Regions from separate parts of the Homo sapiens genome. Here region 1 is linked to region 2. A link means that fine-mapping ties the variant in region 2 to the expression of a gene that starts in the linked region. Tissue or cell type: non-classical monocytes. Region 2 holds a variant in brackets; the other region holds the start of a gene. All regions are shown on one strand. Distances are between the middles of the regions.

What was found. PIP is the estimated chance that this variant, and not a neighbour inherited with it, causes the effect.
Region 1: it holds the start of PSEN1, and the variant in region 2 is fine-mapped to the expression of PSEN1 in non-classical monocytes (Schmiedel 2018, PIP 0.95).

The regions. Positions count from the first base shown.
Region 1 is chr14:73,132,967-73,141,066 of GRCh38, reverse strand. PSEN1 (presenilin 1) reads right to left here and starts at 4,560. Exons shown (of 12, transcript NM_000021.4): 1 at 4,484-4,560. RefSeq lists an enhancer at 4,101-4,210 and silencers at 4,381-4,440, 4,701-4,780.
Region 2 is chr14:73,245,873-73,253,972 of GRCh38, reverse strand. PAPLN (papilin, proteoglycan like sulfated glycoprotein) reads right to left here. Exons shown (of 27, transcript NM_001365906.3): 5 at 7,798-7,900; 6 at 3,859-3,989; 7 at 2,943-3,066; 8 at 2,407-2,487; 9 at 2,137-2,309; 10 at 1,832-1,955; 11 at 1,198-1,324; 12 at 12-219. It overlaps PAPLN-AS1 (PAPLN antisense RNA 1), which reads left to right and starts at 7,972. Exons shown (of 2, transcript NR_135248.1): 1 at 7,972-8,100. It also overlaps the pseudogene RNU6-419P. RefSeq lists silencers at 5,320-5,399, 7,868-8,100 and enhancers at 6,211-6,712, 6,851-6,920. The variant A/G (reference allele first, on the strand shown) is at 4,048.

The sequences.
Region 1 (8,100 bases), 110 kb after region 2:
ATTTGAACTATGCTTATGCAGTTGGCCTTGACTTCTTGTACTTCTGCTGGTGCCTTGAGAAAAGCTTATCATGGATAGCCACTGCCCCTTCAGCCTGGGCCCCAGAATAAGGCATACAAATAAGAACTGCCCTCACCGATCCACACATCTACCTACAAGGAAGCAGAGCCCTGAGTGAGAATACATGCTCTGAACTGCTGAGTTTGGGGGAGGTCTGTAATGTAGAGTTACTATAGCAACTTGTTTTTAAATAATGGTTATGTTGGCTCAGAAAATGCAATAAAAACGAACAAAGACTTAGAATCGCAAGTCCAGAATCCCTTATCTGTAACTTTTAGGACTAAATGTGTTTAGAATTCAGATTTTTTTGGATTTTGTAAAGGTACTATGCAAATGCCAGAAGTTATATAATGCCCCTACAGGGTCTTAGAAGCAGAAAAGCAAACAAATTATTAAGCTATAGTGAAACAAATGAATAGTTTTAAATCACATTAAAAAAAGAAAATAAAGACGATAACTAGGCCAGATTTTGCTGTTAAATTAGTTATAAAAAACCTTGGCCAGGTGCAGTGGCTCGCACCTGTAATCCCAGCACTTTGGGAGGCTGAGGCGGGTGGATCACGAGGTCAGGAGTTCGAGACCAGCCTGGCCAATATGGTGACACCCCACCTCTACTAAAAATACAAAAATTAGCCCAGTGTGGTGGCACACGCCTGTAGTCCCAGCTACTCGGGAGGCTGAGGCAGAAGAATCACTTGAACCTGGGAGGCGGACGTTGCAGTGAGCTGAGATTGTGCCACTGCACTCCAGCCTGGGCGACAGAGGGAGACTCTGTCTCAAAAAAAAAAAAAAAAAAAAAAAAAAGAATAGCAAAAAAAGAAAAACCTTTTAGTTTTCGGATTTCAGAACTCTGGATATGAGACTATGGTCCTATATACCTTTGTATAATTATAAAGAATCTTTCCCAATAAGTTATTTAATTTCAATAACTCTATAAGGGAGATATGATTATTCAAAATCATTGTCTAAAATTCTGAGGAAATGGACAGAATACAACTAATTTTTAATGAAAAATGATTATTTACGTCTAATTAATTTGTAAATCACTTGTTATATTTAGCATTGCCTGCAGTCTTTCTTTTGCTTTGATCAACTTAAACAAGAAACCGTACAAGGCGTTGTGAAAAGCCAATACTAATACCTTTTTCCTCACTCTCATCCAAGCAAGAGTATTAATATCTTTCAATCAACAAACATTTACTGGGTTTCTTCTATATAAGCACACACTTGATGAGGGTTGGGAATTCTAATTAATCAGGTATTACTTCTGTTTACTTAAGGAGCTTACTATCTCTAGAGGGCAAAACAAGTAAATTTTTATACTGGTTAGATATTGAAATAAAAATATGTTAGGTATATTGTGTTAAAATAAATTATTCACATTGGTTTCATCTGTTTCTTTTTGCCCCCCTTTTTTTTCTTTTTTTCTTATGGAGTCTCGCTCTGTAGCCCAGTCTGGAGTGCAGTGGCATGATCTCGGCTCACTGCAACCTCCACCTTCTGGGTTCAAGCGATTCTCCTGCCTCACCTCCCGAGTAGCTGGGATAACAGGTACACGCCAACACACCCGGCTAATTTTTTGTATTTTTAGTAGACACAGGGTCTCACCATTTTGGCGAGGCTGGTCTCGAACTCCTGACCTCAGGTGATCTACCTGCCTCGGCCTCCCAAAGTGCTGGCAGATTACAGGTGTGAGCCACTGTGCCCAGCCTTTTTTTAAAAAAAAAACGAAGTCTCACTCTGTTGCCCAGGCTGGAGTGCAGTGGCGCGATCTCGGCTCACTGCAAGCTCCGCCTCCTGGGTTCACGCCATTGTCCTGCCTCAGCCTCCCGAGTAGCTGGGACTACAAGTGCCTGGCACCATGTCTGGCTAATTTTTTGTACTTTTAGTAGAGACGGGGTTTCACCGCGTGAGCCAGGATGGTCTCCATCTCCTGATCTGGTTATCCACCCGCCTCGGCCTCCCAAAGTGCTGGGTTTACAGGCGTGAGCCGCTGCGCCCGGCCACCCAGCCTCTTTTTACATTTTTTTTCTTTTTTTCTTGACAGAGTCTGGCTCTGTCGCCCAGGCTGGAGTGCAGTGGCGCGATCTCCGCTCACTGCAAGCTCCGCCTCCCGGGTTCACGCCATTCTCCTGCCTCAGCCTCCCGAGTAGCTGGGACTACAGGCGCCCGCCATCACGCCCGGCTAATTTTTTTTTTTTTGTATTTTTTAGTAGAGATGGGGTTTCACCGTGTTAGCCAGGATGTCTCGATCTCCTGACCTCATGATCCGCCCGCCACGGCCTCCCAAAGTGCTGGGATTACAGGGGTGAGCCACCGCGCTCGGCCTTTTTTTACCTTTAAAAATGTGTTTATGGCTAGGCACAGTGGCTTGTGCCTGTATCCCACCACTCTGGGAGGCCAAGGCGGGAGGATCACTTGACTCCAGGAGTTCAAGACCAGCCTGGGCAACATAGTGAGGCTCCCATCTCTAAAAAAATAAATAGCCGGCCGGGCAGGGTGGCTCACGCCTGTAATCGCAGCACTCTGGGAGGCCGAGGCGGGCGGATCACGAGGTCAGGAGATCGAGACCATACTGGCTAACACGGTGAAACCCCGTGTCTACTAAAAATACAAAAAAATTAGCCGGGCGTGGTGGCGGACGCCTGTAGTCCCAGCTGCTGGGGAGGATGAGGCAGGAGAATGGCGTGAACCCGGGAGGCGGAGCTTGCAGTGAGCTGAGATCGCGCCACTGCACTCCAGCCTGGGCGACAGAGCCAGACTCCGTCTCAAAAAATAAATAAATAAATAAATAAATAAATAAATAAATAAATAATAGTATGTTTATTAGAAAATTTAAAATAGGGATAATCACCTTGTGGTTCTCCCAGTCTGCATGCTAATAAATTTGTATGCCTTTTCTCCAAAAGAAAAACAAAACAGGTTTTTTTTTTTTTTGAGACAGTCTCACTCTTTTGCCCAGGCTGCAGTGCAGTGGCATAATCTTGGCTTACTGCAACCTCCTTCTCCCGGGTTCAAGTGATTCTCCTGCCTCAGCCTCGCTTGGGAGCAGCTGGGACTACAGGCGCGCGCCCCCACGCCCAGCTAATTTTTTGTAGAGCCGGGGTTTCGCCGTGTTGTCTGGTCTCGAACTCCTCAGCTCAAGGATCCGCCCCGCGGCCTCCCAAAGTGCTGGGATTACAGGCGTGAGCCACCGCCCCGGGCCTCACATTTTATTTCTATTGGCTAGCGCTGCTCTAAATCTTCTGTTCCTTCTGCTACACCAGGCCTAACACTCAAAATCCCTGCCAACCTTTTCCTTCCTGAAGCTTCCCTCCCCTTCCTCAGCTCTGGCGACCCTGCGCTGTGGTGGTTCTCCAACCACACTCATTCTCCTCAGCTGGCTCCTTGCTCTTCTTCCACCCCCTCGTTGCAAGTGTTCCTAAGTGTTTGCCTTGGCCTCCTCTTCCCCTTCCTTAGCTTAGACTTCTCCACTGCTCCAACATCAACTGGAAATCTATGGAATTGATTCCTGTTTTCAGCTCCAGTCCTGTTCACAGGGCATTTTCACCTGCTGGCACTTCCAAAGTGACACTTCCAAACCACTTCCTCGCCCTCCTCTCTAAACCAGGTCTTTCTTCCTAACTTCCTTATTTCTGAGAATGTCTCTGCCATGTTCTAAACTGAAAACCTCCTAGTCAACTTCACACTTTATTCCCTGATCCTCAATTGGTTCCCATGTCCCGTTAGTGTTTCTTGTAAGCCTCTGCCACCACCGCAGATCGAACTCTAATCACATCTCACCTGAATTATGGAAAAGTCACCTCAATTCTCTCACCCATCCCAGCCTCCACTATGGATTAATATGCCTAAAGCAGAGCTGACCACAACGGTGAGAAGAATCTGAGAGGGAAGCAGCAGCAAACACAAGAGTCACTGGACATGCATGCCTCGAGACAGTCCCGACCAAGGAGAAAGCATCAGACCCCGTCTTCCGCCTCGAACAAGAGGCGTGCGGACTTCGCCCAGAATGCTCGTCGCCCCTGGACAAGGACACACCCGGGGCGTGAGGCGCGGAGTTTCACCAGTTGCTCAAGCAGACCCAGCCCAAGACGCTTCCTCTTTCTCCTACTCCACTCCAGTTCAGACGGCTACTAATCCCGGCCCAAGGCACCTGCGCCCTGAGACGTCTTCGAGCAAACAGCATTTCCGGACCAAGGCTCCCCGGAATCTCTCTCCACCCGGCCGCGCCCGAAGCCCGAGAAACGGGCCGCCCCTCCTGGTTTCCCACACGGGGTTCCCCAGCCCCAACCGGCCGCGCCCCGCCCCTCATCTTTTAGGACACCGGCTTCGCGGCCCGGGCGGCCACAAAGGGCCGGGCCCTGCCCGCGGCCGCCCATGTCCGCGGTGCCTTCCTGGCTTGCCCGGACTCCCCATCACGCACATACGCTTCCCCGCCGCCCCGCTGCCGCCGCGGCTCGTAGCTCAGGTTCCTTCCAGACCAGCCGCTGTTTTGTTTCCGATGTGAAACCGCGGACCCCGGAGCTGCCTGTCCCAGGCCCCGCCCGAGAACCCTCACCGTTGTCGTCATTTCCGGCTCTGGCGTCGTTGGCGGCCGGCCCACGGAGGAGGGGAGGAGCCAGGAGGAAGGGGGCGGGGCCTCCGGCCTGGAGAAACGATTGCGGGGAGAACCCAGAGCTCCACCTGGCCTTCCCCACCTGACGGAATCCGCCCAGAGCGCTGGCGTGGGTTGTCGGGGTTCTGAGGCTGCTCGAGCTGAGGACGAAAGCCCCTATATAAATTGGGCCCAGCGTGTGCTTCTCCCGGCATACAAGCGATGGCCATCCTAAATTTAACACCTGTCATTTCTTTAGGGTACCTATTTGCGAACCAGCTGCATCACAATCAAGAGAATGCTGTTAAAATCGCAAATATCTCTGCCCTCTCCCACCACTCAATGAATCAAAACTTCTGGTGGGTGGCGAGAACCTGAGAAACTGCATTTTAAACATCCTCCGCGATTCTTGGACTCCAACTTTGACAACCAGTCTTTCTAGGTGGCAAGCTAGCTGAGAGCAGAAAATGTGTCTGGTTTGCTGGGTCACTTGATTTTTGCATCTGCCTGCTCTTTGTCCAGTTTTGGTAAAGACAGTACCAATGTCTAATTCATTAGACAGCATACCACACTTACACATATATCCAAAAGCTAAAACTAAAAAATGAATACTACCTTATTTAATCAAGGTGAACGGAGAAATGTCAAACATGGGTATTCAAAAAACCGAAAATGAAATTAACGGTACATGGTATCTGGGCAAGTTACATTCTTCTAAAGTTTCTTTAAAAATCCACCCCCAAGCGGCCGGGTGCAGTCGCTCACGCCTGTAATTCCGGCACTTTGGGAGGCCGAAGCAGGCGGATCATGAGGTTGGGAGTTCTAGACCAGCCTAACCAACATGGTGAAACCCCGTCTCTACTAAAAATACAAAAAAATTAGCCGGGTGTGGTGGCGCGCTCCTGTAATCCCAGCTACTCGGGAGGCTGCAGCAGGAGAATCGCTTGAACCCGTGAGCTGAGATCACACCACTGCACTCCAGCCTGGGAGACAGAGCAAGACTCCATCTCAAAAAATAAAAATTAAAATTAAAAAATAAAATCCACCCCAAGCTATCCCTTCACATTCCTATCGCATCAATCTCCAATCCCTCCTCCCAACCCACTGCCAACCTTGTTCAAAAACATGAGATTCTAATACTTTTTACACACAAAAGCTTCATATTTAAGAACAAAAGTAATATTTTCCATTAGCAGAATGAAAGATAAGTTGTGGGAGAAGGTTGAACGAAAAAAGATGTTTTTAAAATTCTTCACCTCCCCCACTTTAACAAGAGTAGGGATTTTAGTTTGTTCATTTACAAGTGCTCATGCTTGTCAGCAGCACATATACATTTTACAAGTGCTGAGAACAGTGCCTGATACATAACAGTGCCTGATACATACAATAGTTCAGTATTGAACAAATACAGGCTAAAACCCATCTATTTGTGAACTACTTCAATCTGATTGCAGTCCGCTAATATTAATAGGATGTCTTAAAATGCTGATGAACTATTCTTAGAAACAATCTACAAAAATTTTGGGCAAAGATATTCATGGAATATTATATAGCAAAAAATTGGGAAACTAAATATGGTACAATAGGCAGGGTGCGGTGGCTCACGCCTGTAATTCCAGCACTTTGGGAGGCCAAGGTGGGCGGCTCATCTGAGGTCAGGAGTTCGAGACCAGCCTGATCAACATGGAGAAACCCCGTCTCTACTAAAAATACAAAAAAAGTTAGCCAGGCGTGGTGGCGCATGCCTGTAATCCCAGCTACTTGGGAGGCTGAGGCAGAATTGCTTGAGCCTGGAAGGCAGAGGTTGCAGTGAACCGAGATTGCGCCATTGCATTCCAGCCTGGGCAACAAGAGCGAAACTATGTCTCAAAAAATAAAAATAAATAAATAAATAAATAAATAAATAAATAAATAAATAAATAAATGTGGTACAATAAATTATGGTCCACCCACCTCACAGAATGTCATGAAAATTTTTCATGAACGCCTGGTCACGGTGGCTCATGCCTGTAATCCCAGCACTTTGGGAGGCCAAGGCAGGAGGATCACTTGAGGTTGGGAGTACAAGACCAGCCTGGACAACATGGTGAAACCCCGTCTCTATTAAAAATACAAAAATTAGCCCGGCATGGTGGTGTGGGCCTGTAATCTCAGCTACTCAGGTGGCTGAGGCTTGAATCTGAGAAGGAAAGTTTGCAGTGAGCCGAGTTTGCACCACTGCACTCCAGCCTGGGAGACACAGTGAGACTCTGTTTTTCCCAAAAAAAAAAAAAAGTCCTGCAACAAAAAGGCAGTAAGATTTTAAAAAAATAGCAAACCCTAACATTGAATAACCAGCCTTCAGATAATTTTCTTCTCATTTTCTTTATGTCCTACTGTTAGGCCTCTGAGCCCAAGCCTTCACGTATACATCCGGATGGCCTGAGGCAACTGAAGGACCACAAAAGAAGTGAAAATGGCCAGTTCCTGCCTTAACTGATGACATTACCTTGTGACATTCCTTCTCCTGGATAATGTCTCTGGAGCTCCCCACCAAACACCTTGTGACCCCCGCCCCTGCCCACAAGAGCACAACCCCCTTTAACTGTAATTTTCCACTACCTACCCAAATCCTATAAAACTGCCCCACCCCCATTTCCCTTTGCTGACTCTCTTTTCGGACTCAACCCACTTGCACCCAAGTGAAATAAACAGCCTTGTTGCTCACACAAAGCCTGTTGGTGGACTCTCTTCACACGGACGTGTGTGTCATTTGGTGCTGAAGACCCAGGACAGGAGGACTCCTTCGGGAAACTGGTCCCCTGTCCTCACCCTCACTGCATGAGGAGATCCACCTATGACCTCGCGTCCTCCCATCAATCAGCCCAAGGAACATCTCACCAATTTAAAATTGGGTAAGCGGCCTTTTCACTCTCTTCTCCAGCCTTCTCACTACCCTTTAATCTCCCTGTCCTTCCAATTCCAGTTTTTTCCTCTCTAGTAGAGACAAAGGAGACACATTTTATCTGTGCACCCAAAACTCTGGCATTGGTCACAGACTCGGGAAGACAGTTTTCCCTTGGTGTCCAATCACTGCAGGAACGCCTGCTTGATTATTCACTCACATTTCAGAGGTGTCTGATCACCACGGGGATGCCTGCCTTGATCCTTCACCTTGGTGGCAAGTACCACCTCCCCTTGGTGGCAAGTACCTCCTCCCCTGGGTGGCAAGTACCACCACCCACTCCAAGTCTCTACCCTCTCTTTTCTCTGGGCTTGCCTCCTTCACTATGGGCAAACTTCCACCCTCCATTCCCCTTTCTCCCTTAGCCTGTGTTCTCAAGAACTTAAAACCTCTTCAACTTACACTTGACCTAAGACCAAAACACCTTATTTTCTTCTACAACCCTGCTTGGCCCCAGTACAAATTCGACAATGGTCCCAAATAGCCAGAAAACGGCACTTTT
Region 2 (8,100 bases):
AGGGGCCTGACCTCTCCCCAGGGCTCCGGGCTCCAGGCTGCACAGCGCTGCAGGTTACAGGCCTGAATGGCAGGGGGCTTCCCAGGCAGCCCGGCACACTCAGCCTCCTCCACGGCCTCCTGGATGCCGGCCCCGTCAGACGAGATGCAGTACACGGAGCGGGACTGGGAGCCTCCTCCACAGGAGGCTGAGCAGGGTGCCCATGGCCCTGCCTTCCAGCTGGCAGGAGGGGGAATCAGGTAAGGCTGGCCCAGGAGCATGGGCAGAAACCCAGCCCTGAGGGTTTCTGCCCTCACTCACACAGGTGGCCTGAGGACCCCCACCCCAGCCCATCCTCTGAGCCTCCAGCCTGAACAAAGGCTACGACCCAGGCGCTCCTTAGCATCCCCACCACCGGGCCTGGCTCTCTGAGCGCTCCCCACAACTCGGGGCCCTGCGCCTCCCCCTTGGCTTTCCTGTCCTCAACCCTATCCCCCTTTCTCCTTCCCACCAGGTCCCTGTCTCCCAGTCAGACTCCATTCCTCTCGGTCTGACCTTAGTCAAGGGGCAGCTCCTGGAGAGGCTGTGCTCACCCATGCGTGGAGCGGCTCTGCCAGGCCCCGGGTGCAAGGACCCAGAGGAAAGAGCAGCCCTGTGGCCCCATGCAAAGCCAAGTCCGCCACCATCCCAGGAGGCCCGCTGCCACCAAGGCCAAGCGGTGACAGGGTGGCACCAGCCCTGCGGGGAGCCTGTGACCTGCAGGTTACCTGTTCCCACACACTCGCTGGGCCCCAGCAAGGCGCCACGCTCCAGGCCGGTGCAGGTAAGAGGTCCTTTGTGCACGAACAAAGCCATGGCCGATGCCAACAGGCCCTTTGGCCTGACCCCTGGCCCACCCCTTGGCATCTGCCAAGCCAAACCCTCTGCTGGCTCAGACAGACAGGGACCTCTGGAACCTTCTCCAACCCTCCTGCCACCAAGCCTAGGTGTTCTGAGTACTTCGTGGTCACAGGAGAGCAGAGAGACCAGCCCCGGGCTCAGGCCTATTCTCTGCCTCCCCCAGGAAGAGCTGCCACCTCTCCCACACCCCAGCCACAGCGTGGGGGGCCCTGGACCCCCACCTCTTTGTTCTACACCTAAAGCAGCTTGGAGGCCTTGTTCCCTTCCCACCCAAGTTCTTGGGCCTCATCATGGGTAGAGGGGCTGGCAAGGTCTCACCGCTTGGTCTCCGGGCAAGGGTGAAGATTGCAGGAACGCCGGTCAGCTGGCCGTGGCTGGCGCTGGCACATGTGGTCGGGGTAGGCCTCATGGTCGATGGTGCAGAACACCAGGCGGGACTGGTGACCTGCGCAGAGGCCCAGCCATGGCGGGCAGACGCCAGTCAACATTCACCAAGCGCGTTCCCTGGGCCAGGCGCCATCCTGCACTCACCCCACAGGTCATCCCCATTCAGTCTTAGATGACCCCCCCGAGGCAGGTGCCACCACATCTCCAATTGGCAGATGAGGAAACTGAGGCTCTGAGGGTTTTTGCTGTGAGAGAGCCCTACTCTGGCACCTGATCACTGACCCCAGGCCCAGCTCCGGTCCTGAGGGAGTCTGTCTCCTATGAGATGCCGCTGACTCTGGGAAGCCCCCTCTGGTTCTATTCGCTTAGGCTGGGGTCCTTCATGGAGTCCCCCAGATCCCTGGGTTTTCCTCAAAGCGACCCCCATAACACAGAGATTTCTCGCCTACTTGTCCATCTCCCCAGGAGGGACTGCCTTGAGGAGAGGGCTGTGACTTGCCCACCTGTGGCCGTGGGATCCAGCACACAGGGCCCATGCCCTCCCCTGGGCCATCCACGCCCGCACCTCCGCCACACTCCGCGCTGCAGTCACTCCATGAGCCGTGGCTCCAGCTGAAGCCGGGGCTGGGGCGGCGCAGGGGCAGGTGGTACTCATAGTGCACACCGGGGTTGGGCTCCTGGCTGATGAGCTGTCACGGGAGAGTCCTTGTTGGGGTCTGCTGCTGGGGAGCACTCCCACACCCTCCGCAGCCTCACAGCCCCCTGCCAGCCTCAAGCCCAGAGCCACTCAACCCCCCATGTACAGAGCTTGGCAGCCTCTTGGGGACCACGAGCTGCCCACTCGCCCTCTCTCCCCACACCCCCATTTACCTCGATGACCAGGGGCTCCGAGGTGGGGCCCCGGGCATGGAGTCGCTCAGGGGCCAGGTCCCCCTCAGCACCCCGCTCGTAATGCAGGATGGTGCTGGCTGCTGGCAGGGCCCGGGCCGCCTCGATGGTCCAGTGCCCATTGAGGTAGTATTCCCCACGAACATTCTTCACAGCTGCGCAGAGGAGACCGCCTCAGTCAGCCAGAGGGAGCAGTGCCGCACCTCCCCCTGCAGCCCCAGACCTGCCTAGGACCTAACCCTAGGCTCTCACCCAGGAAGTTCCTGCTGGCAGCAGCCTCGTCGATGAGGATGCTGGTGGCACCCATGGGAACTATGAGGATCTGGTTGTAGCCTGGGGGCAGAGACGCAGGTGCTGGGTGTGCTGGGCTATCCCTCTCCCGGCACCACTCAAACAGGACTCCAAGTGCCACACAGCACAGAATGGGGGCAGGGAGGGTACACAAGAGCCAGACAGGGCCGAGCTGCTGGGAAAGGCAACCCTGGCAGAAGAGGCCGCAGTACAAAAGCCAGGGTGGCGGGAAGGCTCAGGGCACCCGGAGCACACTGGGAGTGGGAAGGGATGGGGAGGGCATCCAGGCGGTGGCAGCAGGAGATGGGACTGCACGAGCGGGCACGAGTCCTAACCAAAGGCCACAGGGGGCCTTTCAGATGTGACCTGATATGATCAGAGCCTTCCAGTGCCATGAGGGCCACTTGGCCTGGAGTCTAGGCCAGAGCAGGGACAGGCAAGGAAGGGACAGGCAAGGAAGGGGGCAGGCAACTGCCCCTTGTCGGAACCACCCCCACCTCGGCTGAGGTCATTAGCGTCAAAGGTGCCTGCGACGGGGTAGCAGGTCGTGCCGTCACCCCCACACCGCAGACACTTGTCCTCCTGCTTGGACGAGTCCAGCTCGTGATCACAGCCGACAACCTGTGGGCAGAGATGCGGGAGGCAGGGGAGACGGCATCATGGCCACATCAGGCCTTGGGCCCCGTCGCATCCTAACCCCAGCACCCACGCAGCCCAGGCAGGATAGGGTGGTCGGGAGTGATTCAGCCACCAGCCAGGGGACTGGCCTGTGGCTGACAATCCACTTCTCTGTCTGCTCAGCTCCCATCTCCCCTTCTGGTAATAATGCCCTGTTTTCCTTGAGGGGCCACCTCTCTCCCGCAGAGTTTGAACGGAGCTCCCCAAATGTGGGTTTGGGGAGGTTGGAGTGGTTCAGGGTAAGTCCCAAACCAAGACGAATCAGAGACAACCCCCGGTGGCTAGAACTCCTGGGAATGAGGCCCCCTTTCCCTGGGAATTCCCTTTCTAGGGAGCAGAAGGTCGGAGCAGCTGGCGGCCACCTCCACACCTCCTGGGAAGAATGGGCCAGATCCTGATGCTGGACCCAAGGAGAGGAAAGCCGAGTGGCACCTCATTCATGCGCCTGCGGCTGTCCCTGCTGTTTGTTTTTCTGAAGTCGGTTTTAGCCGGATTTCTGCCACCCAGAGGGTTTCTCTTATTGTAGGGCTAGCGTTCTCCAAGGATGAAGGTGAGGGGCCATAGGGCATCTGTGATGCCTGCAAGGTACCCTAGGAGCTGGGCTTGGTGTCCTGGTAACTTGAGAAGACACCAAGCTCATGGCAGCTACCTGGGCCTATGGGTGATGGACAGGGAAACACCCGCACTGAGCCCCCAGGCAGCCCGGAGGCAGGGAGGGGCTGGGGCACCACTCACCCGGCAGCTGCCATCCACACAGACATCCCTCTTGCCAGGCTCGCAGGGCGTCCCATCAACCACAGCCTCCCTGTGCTTGTAGTAGAAGTTCTCCCCCTTGGGAATGCAGTTCAGTTCACACTTGTTTGGGGCTGGGGTGGGCAGGAAGGCAAGACTGAGATCCTGAGGTTGATGATGCCCCTCCCCAAG[A/G]CCCAAGGCTTACCCTAGCAACAGGAAAGCATGGGTCAGAAAGCCCTGCAGCAGGCCCCGCAGAGCACAGATCCCCGCCCCATCCCCAGGAGAAGGGACCGTCTCCATGAATCTGTTGCACCTCTAAGGATCAAGTCGAAGAAAAATCCCAGAATCAGGAAAAAGTGAAACACTTAAAGAAGTCTACCTCAGCATTATTTACCACAGCTGAGGTGGTTACAACAGGCTACTTTTTTTTTTTTTTTTTTTTTGAGGTGGAGTCTCGCTCTTGTTGCCCAGGCTGGAGTGCAGTGGCACGATCTCGACTCACTGCAACCTCCGCCTCCCTAGTTTAAGCAATTCTCCTGCCTCAGCCCCCCTAGTAGCCGGGACTACAGGCACGCGCCACCACACCCGGCTAAGTTTTGTACTTTTAGTAGAGATGGGGTTTCACCATGTTGGGCAGGCTGGTCTCGAACTCCTGACCTCAGGTGATCCACCTGCCTCAGCCTCCCAAAGTGCTGGGATTACAGGTGTAAACCACTGTGCATGGCCATAACAGGCTACTCTTTAAATAAATTATCAATGGAATATTACACATGCTGACTATGCAGTTACAAATGATGATTGTGAAGACTATATGGTGTGGGAAGATGCTTAAAACACAGAATGCAAAATGGTGATTACTATGCAATAATTACAAATATGTAAGCATATATGGAGAGAATAATGTGAAAGGGGCTAAAATGAAATGCTAACAGTGATCTTGTGAAAGGGGCAGGATGAGGATAACTTTTTTCTGGTTTTAATGTTTTTCAGATGGGATCTCACTCTGTCTCCCAGGCTGGAATGCAGAGGCACGATCAAAGCTCACAGCAGCCTCTACCTCCGAGACTCAAGTGGTCCTCCAGCCTCAGTCTCTCGAATAGTTGGGACTATAGGCACATGCCATCATACCCAGCTAATTTTTTTATTTTTTGTAGAGACAGGGTCTCACTACGATACCCAGGCTGGTTTCAAACTCCTGGGCTCAAATGATCCTCCTGCCTCAGCCTTCCAAAGCACCAGGATTACAAGCAGGAGCCACTGTACCTGGCCTGGTTTTAATTTTTTTTTCTTCTTTTGGAGACAAGATCTCACTCTGTCGTCCGGGCTGGAGTGCAGTGGTGTGATCTTGACTCACTGCAGCCTCAACTTCCTGGGCTCAAGTGATCCTCCCACCTCAGCTTCTCGAATAGCTGGGACTACATGGGTGTGCAACCATGCCTAGCTAATCTTTGTATGCCTGGCTAATCTTCGTATTTTTGGTAGAGATGGGGTTTCACACATTGCCCAGGCTTGTCTCAAATTCCTGGACTCAAGTGATCCTCCTGCCTCAGCCTCCCAAAGTGCTGGGATTACGGGCATGAGCCACTGTACCCTACCTTAATTTTTATATTTATCTAAATATATACACATTTTAAAACAACCCAAAAGTACAAACAGGATTATAATCATCTCCATACCATGGAAGGTATCCCTCTACTCTCTTTTTAGACTTTCCCCTGTGTTCCAATTTTTCTATCATGTGACTATAATCAAATTATTTTTGACATGTGTCCACTTCAGGATCCAGGGGGAATTCTGAAAGCTAGAGTCCCACTGGGTCACGCCCACAGCCACAATCCCCACAACACACACACACACACACACACACATAGAGGATATGAGACTCCCACTGGGCCATGCCCACAGCCACAATCCCCACAACACACACAGACACACACACACACACACAGAGGATATGAGACTCCCACTGGGCCATGCCCACAGCCACGATCCCCACAACACACACACGCGCACACACACACACACACACACACACACACACAGAGGATATGAGACTCCCACTGGGCCACACCCACAGCCACAATCCCAACACACACACACACACACACACACACACACACACACACACACACAGAGGATATGAGACTCCCAGTGGGCCATGCCCACAGCCACGGTCCCCACAACACACACACACACACACACACACACACACACACACACACACACACGGAGGATATGAGACTCCCACTGGGCCACGCCCACAGCCACGATCGCCACCACACACACACACACACACACACACACACACACACACACACACGGGATAAGAGACTCCCACTGGGCCACGCCCACTGCCACTATCGGCACAACACACACACACACGCACAGAGGACATGAGACTCCCACTGGGCCATGCCCACAGCCACGATCCCCACAACACACACACACACACACGCACACACACACAGGATAAGAGACTCCCACTGGGCCACACCCACTGCCACGATCGGCACAACACACACACACACGCACAGAGGACATGAGACTCCCACTGCGCCATGCCCACAGCCACGATCCCCACAACACACACACACACATACACAGGATATGAGACTCCCACTGGGCCATGCCCACAGCCACGATCCCCACCACACACACACAGAGAGAATATAAGTGCTCCTTGATCTGGAATCTAGAGTGCCACAGGGTCTCCAGAGGTCATTTGCCGCAAGCAGGGAAAACGAACACTCAGAAGACTTGTCTTGAGGAATCTTCTGATTCATCTAAAATGCTTAATGACATACATGTTGGTGCTTACCTGGGTGTTTTTTCCCTGAACTGTATTTCTCTAAAAATTAATGACTTATACCCTCCTCAGAGGTGCACAGACCATCTCCTCTGGCCCCCAGATCCTTGATAAATGAAGTCTTGGTGTACCAAGCCCCTTCCAGCCCCTCCTGCAGGATGACCGTGGGGCACCATTGCTACCGCTCCCGGGGTTCCCCATCTCCGTCTCTGTGCGACGGGAGGAACGCTTCCCATAGCAGACTGAGCAAAAACAGGGCTCAAAATGGTATAGACACACCATAGCTTCGTTTGAAAATATACATACATAAGGGGAGAAAGGATGGAAAGACCTCAAAATGGCTGCCATGGTGTTGCCACGGGCATGTGCTGGGGGGAGCAGGGGTACTGGTGATTGATTCATTATGGGTTGATCGATGGGGTATTTGACAAATGCTGGCTCTGGCAGCACATATACTAAAATTGGAACGATACAGAGATTAGCACAGCCCCTGCCCCCTTAGCTGGTATGGCATGCAAATTCATGAAGCATTCCATATTTACTTTAAAAATTATTTGGGAGGCTGAGGTGGAAGGATTGATTGAGCTTGGGAGGTACATGCTGCCCAGCTGACATGACACTGCTGCACTCAAGCCTGGGCAAGATCCTGTCTCAAAAAAAAAAAAAAAAGAAAGAAAGAAAAAGGAAAAGAAAAAAAGGAAAGGAAAGGAAGAGAGAAAAAAGAGCAAGCGAGAGAGAACGAGAGAGAAAGAAAAGAAAAAAAGATAAAGAAAAAGAGAGACCTCTTGCTCTCTCTCGAGGGACCTCTGCAGACCCTCTCCTCCCCAAAGGTGGGTCCTGTGGTCTACAAGATTTCCTGTACATTGCGAGCCCCCGCGCCCACCCAAAAAAAAAAAAAAAAAAAAAAAAAAAAATTGGTCGGGTACAGTGGCTCACGCCTGCAATCCCAGCACTCTGGGAGGTCGCTGCCGGCGGATCCCTTGAGCCCAGGAGTTCAAGACCAGCCTGGGCAACACAGTGAGACTGTCTCTAATATATATATATATGACAACGCCTCTATAATACGGCAATAGGAACTGTGGCATCAACGTAGGTATACAAGAGGCCCCGAGAGAGCGAGTCCCGGCCGCGCTCACCGCTGTAGTAGGGCAGCCACCGATACCGCCGCCCCTGGAACTCCGCTCCGTCGAACTCCGCGCACTGCTCGGCCCGGAAGTCCCGGGCGCCGTCGGGGCAGCTCTGCGGGGCGGAGGGGAAGTCGGGATCCAGGAGGGCGGAGTCCGAGGTCCGCCCACCTCCCGCCCCGCCCGAGCCCAGGGAGCCCAGGAGTCTCCCTTGCCTGCCCCATCGGAGCCGCCGGAGGTGGAGTCCGCCCCCCGGACCCCCGAACTCCTGTGCGTGCCCCTCCATGGTGCTCTAGGCTGTGGAGGGCAAGGCCA